Linked DNA regions of Homo sapiens: region 2 is linked to region 1. A link means that fine-mapping ties the variant in region 1 to the expression of a gene that starts in the linked region. Tissue or cell type: whole blood. Region 1 holds a variant in brackets; the other region holds the start of a gene. All regions are shown on one strand. Distances are from middle to middle.

Region 1 (2,759 bases):
CTCCTGGGCACTTTCTTTGGTGGGTGCCCTCCTCTCTGGCAAGCCTCTTTTCTCATCCTCACCCTCACCCCAATCCCGTGAATGCAGAGTCTGAGCTGTTGGTTTGACACTCTTGAGTCTATTCCTGATTGTCTGGAACAGATATGGGAATTTAGCCTTAGGGGCTGATCTGATGATTCTTAGTTCTCTCTATCTCCTGAGAAGGAGTTCGTTCTGTTGGTCTTCCCTGGCCCAGGGATGCTTTGCATCCTTGGCTCCCCCAGTCTACTCCCCATGATGGATTCCAGGTGCCTGTGTCATGCAAGAGCTTGAGCTGCCCCTCTGTCTGGGGAAGGCAAGCCAGGCTGGGGTGCTCCTCTGTAAATGGCACTTTATCTTTCCCACAGGGGTCAGATCTCAGACTATTCATCAATGGCCAGCGACCCTGGTGCAGCCTGTGGGCAGCCCGCTCTCTCTGGAGTGCACTGTGGAGGGAACATCAAACCCCAACCTATACTGGTACCGACAGGCTGCAGGCAGGGGCCTCCAGCTGCTCTTCTACTCCGTTGGTATTGGCCAGATCAGCTCTGAGGTGCCCCAGAATCTCTCAGCCTCCAGACCCCAGGACCGGCAGTTCATCCTGAGTTCTAAGAAGCTCCTTCTCAGTGACTCTGGCTTCTATCTCTGTGCCTGGAGTGTCACACTGAGCTGGGTGGGGCAGACATCTGTGCAAAAACCCCACCCTCTCCTGAGCCCTAACCATACTCCCCAGGGGCCTTCACTTAGGGACTGGGTGGAGGATATTTGTAAGTAGGTTTCTGACTGCTGGCCAATGTGAAAGCAATGGAATAAAGCGAGAATTCTACAAAAGACTCTACTAAGTTCTCAGGGAGAACAAAAAATTGTATGTGTGCAGAACCTGTGATTTGCCTGCACATAGTCAAGTTCTCAATGTATGGATGTCCCGGCCCAGGCTACCATACTCCAGCCCTCAAGGTGTGCTATACCTTGCCTGATTTTCTAGTCTTCCAAATTCTTCTATGTGTGCCGTGGGGAGGGGGTTTGTGCATATATGGCTGAGAGAAAGGATATACCTGTGGCAGGAGGTGAGCTGGTGAACAAACGGGAGGATGCCAACCCAGGTTACTTAATTG[G/A]TTAATTTCATCACCTGGAGAGTCTCCTGTCATTGATCTTTCTGCTGAGACTAGAAATTATGGGGAGGCTTAGACCTGAGGCTTTGAGTCAGGCAAAGAGGCAAGATGTTCAGGAGACTGTTCTCATTCGAGGCAGAAGTGTGGTTTTGTTAGTATAGGTAACATGCACTTAGGCCAGACGTGGTAGCTCATGCCTGTAATCCCAGCACTTTGGGAGGCTGAGGCAGGAGGATCACCTGAGGTCAGGAGTTTGAGACCAGCCTGGCCAATATGGTGAAACCTGTCTCTACTAAAAGTACAAAAATTAACCGGGCGTGGTGGCAGGCGTCTGTAATACTAGCTACTTGGGAGGCTGAGGCAAGAGAATCACTTGAACCTGGGAGGTGGAGGTTGCAGTGAGCCAAGATCATGCCACTGCACTCTAGCCTGGGTGACAGAGCGAGACTCTGTCTCAAAAAAAAAAAAAATAAAAATAAGCTTGCACTTAGAAATTTTGGTGATGTTTGAGGTTTTAAAAAATGTCCTGTTGTACTATCTTGTAGCCCTTCCTTTGTAGCAAAGACAGACAGATGGTGATCCAAGAGATACGCAAGAAGAGGACCGTGTGTGTAATGGTTGAGCTCTAAAAAAGAGAAATCACTTGGATGGAAATGAAGGAGAGGAAAAGGCTGATGTGGATGGCTGGGAAGAGGTTCGATGGTTACCTTGGCAACTGAGCTTCCTTCCTCATCCCCATCCCTCCCTAGTCCTTGTTCTTAAAAAGATTTTCTTTCTAATGTCCCTTCCCCTCCACAAGGGGGCACAAGATGTCTTAAAATACTCCATTCCGGGCATCATTTAACCTAGATCAATCCAGACACGTGCATATTTCTAGTATCATTTAATCTGAAGTGGAAAATCTGAGATGTAGACACAGAGTGATCAAGAACATATGGAATAATGCCCAGGGGTCCCTACTGAACTTTAAGGATCACCTATGTATTAAGCAGCTATTATTTGCTGGACACAGTGAGTCATTTTGAGGATTAAAAAGAAAAATAAAATGTACTCGAGATGGTGTTGGGCACAGTCATAGCATGATTTAGTCAAAGCACTTGATTTTTGTAGTCTAAAAATTTGCTAGTTGTTATGAACTTGACCTAGTTATTTAATTTTACTAAGTTTCAAGTTTTTCCCCACCTATAAAACTTGCCTCATTGAATTGTTATGTGTATTAAATGAGATGGTGTTTATAAAGCCCTATTACAAGCTCTAATTTTCAACAGGTATTATTTTCCGCTCCTTAAGCTTACAAGATTATTTTCATTACAACTTACCCAAGAGGAAGACTTAGTTAAAAAATTTCAAATCATAAACTACAAGTATGTAATAAATATTAATATTTAAAATGCTAAACATGCTTGGATGGCAAAACCATGAAACTTGAACCCTATGCTGTGCCTATTCAGATGCTGATTCTGTAGGGGCTTTATACAGCTTCAGAATCCTCATTAATAGAGAAATGTCTCAGGCAATCACCACTAGTCAAGTAGAATTAGTAGAGACTTGAGGCAGATTTTTCCTTCCTGTAATATACTGCAAAAATTCTGGAAAACTTCACAAAGGACATAAAATTGTAGCTAAGTT
Region 2 (2,500 bases), 43 kb before region 1:
GAGTGATAGCAGAACAGCCGTCCCAGAAGGAGGATCCTGCCTTTCCCATGCTCAGCCCACCCCAGCCTGTTGCTCCCCAGCATTCTGGTAACTCAGTGTCATTGCCAACCATCTTTTTGCACCCTGAATGGAGTAATAGACTCCAAACAAGTCCTCCTTCTGAGGCCACCAGGTAAGTACATAGACACCCCCACGCTAATCTTCCTTTGAGAAAAAAGGCCCACTGCTCTGAAAAGCCAAGTGGCCCCACTGAGCAGCACTCAGAAGCCTCAATGCTCCAATGCCCCTTACTTGGGCAGCTTCTGTGGTCTACTAACAGCCCCACACAGCTCCCTCCCACTGGTCTCTCAGCTCAGGACCAGCATCTCCCCTCCTAGAGCCTCAGTCAAGTTCCCCTGGCGGGCGGAGGGCCTGGGTTAACTGGGAACAGACCCAGCAGCTCCGCTCCATGGGCGCTGCCAGGGACATTACAACATTGCTATGCTGGGTCCATGCCAGCTCCCCCAGGGATGGGAGGAGAGAGGGTGCCAGACGGCCAAGATCGGTGGGTGGGGGTGTGGGGCAAGCAGGGCCAAGCACCCAGATGGAGGGAGCAGAGCGAGGGTGGAGCTGGGGCAGGAGCACGCAATAGAATTTGGTTGCACGTTGGGGGTGATGGCTGGGCAGCAGGAACCAAGCGTTCCTTCCACCTCCAAGGCTTAACTGTGGTCATGGAGCTGGGGGGGACAGTGCCTTGTGGGGAGCAGGGGACAGGTGTGTGGTCAGCCTCCTGACTCCTCCCAGCTCCAAGGGGATTGGAGTGATGCCACTGGAGTCAGAGGGGTGGCAATCCTGTTCCAAGCGTGGAGCTCCGTCTCTGCGAGGACCCTCCCAGATTAGGACTCCCAAGCCAGAGCCAGAGGAGAATGTCTGGGAACGCAACTGGGGGATCCTAACAGCAAGGGTAATGCGGTGTCAATGATGCCAGGTCAGAGTGGAGTGAGAGGGGAGTAGCCAGGTTGACCGTTTCCTCACCCTTCATGAACCCCACTCTGGCCTTGAGGAAGGATCCTCAGTACTCCCTCAGGAAGCCACCTAGGGGCTGAGGAGCCCCACTACTCTTGCAAACCTTAATTCCTCTGTCCCCAAGCATACTGTCCCCGACCCCCACAACGCCGCCTGCTAACCCCGCGGGCTCACCTTCCCGTTGGCCGCAGTCTCTGCAGGTCTGCGCCCCCCGAGGCCTCGCAGTGGACCCGGGGCTCCTGGAGCTCGCACGGTGCCACCCGCGTCTTCTCCAGTCCGGGGACCCCGTTGCACCCGGCCCGGGTCCGTTCGGCGCCGAGAGTCCCTGGGATTCCGGGGTGGACCTGACGCTGGCGGCAGGGGCTGCTCCAGAGGTGGGGCGCCGGGAGATCCTGGGGGCCCGCGTCGAGATCGCCGTCGCCAAGCTGGGTCCCGGGTCCCGCCGCCCGCTGCTGTAGAGCCGCGGCTGGAGCGAACGCAGCCCGGCCCGCCCCCTCCGCGTCCCCTCCCAAGCCGGCCCGGCCCGCCCCTTCAGCCCCTTTGGCCGCCTTCCCACTCCCTTCTTCCGGGGAGCCGAGCCCGCCCTCCCGGCCTAGGCGGTGAGTGCGCGGCGCCCGCTCCTCCGCCCCGGCGCGCGGGGGAGACGCGGGGCGCGCCCGGGGCCCCGCCTGTGCGCCGGGAAGGGGGCGGCCTCCTCCCGCGGGTCTTGGCCGGGAGGATCGCACGCGTGGGGCGCCTGCAGGAAGTGGGAAGGGAAGAGGCTGTCTGTAAAGCCCCTGCCTGGGCTCGGGCTCGGGCTCGGCTTGGGTCGGACACCCGCGGAGCGAAGCGCAACTGGCGGACCGTGGCAGTTCAGGGCAGGGCAGAGCCCTGCACACACCCCCTCGCGCCTCCCTCCTCTTCGGCTTTAACTCTAGGAACTAAAACAGTGGGGCTCCTACTCAGCTTGGAACTAAGGTGGGCGTGAGCTGAGCAAGAGAGAAGGAAGGAAAAGCAGGGGGTGGAGGGAAAGACAAACTGAGAAATCTGGGAGAGTACGGGCGGTGGTAGGGGGAGCCGAGGCAGCGGGAGAGGGGGGCGTCTCGGTATGAAAGCGTCGCCGTGCTAGCCGGGAACTCTTTTCTCTTTTCGTGTCTGGATCTTGGTCAACGTTGGGGCTTCTGAGTCGAACCTCCCTCCATCTACCCTCCCCAAGGGGCAGGGCAGTCGGGTTGAAAAGGGGAAGCGCTGCTGTACGCCTGGCTCTGACATGGCTTGGGCAAGTCGCTGCACCTCTGGGTGCCTCCTCCCTCGCCCGCGCTCCGGAGAGAACCTCCCTGCAGTGAGGAGGGGCGGTGCAAGGTGCTCTCAGCTGGCGCCTGGAGGCAGGGTTGAGGAACCGAGGGGGCGCCGCGAGGAAAAGTGTTTCCGCCCACCTCTAACCCCTTCTCTAGCCGAGGACGGGGATTTGGGGTCTATTGTTTGGGTCCTACAGAGCTGGGCTGGGGCCTTGCCA

The links. PIP is the estimated chance that this variant, and not a neighbour inherited with it, causes the effect.
Region 2: EPHB6 starts here. The variant in region 1 is fine-mapped to the expression of EPHB6 in whole blood (TOPMed, PIP above 0.99).

Annotation. Positions count from the first base shown.
Region 1 is chr7:142,810,505-142,813,263 of GRCh38, reverse strand. It overlaps TRB and TRBV30. Among named protein-coding and RNA genes, the nearest start is that of PRSS2, 41 kb to the right of the region's middle. The variant G/A (reference allele first, on the strand shown) is at 1,134.
Region 2 is chr7:142,854,065-142,856,564 of GRCh38, reverse strand. It overlaps EPHB6 (EPH receptor B6), which reads right to left and starts at 1,489. Exons shown (of 20, transcript NM_004445.6): 1 at 1,180-1,489.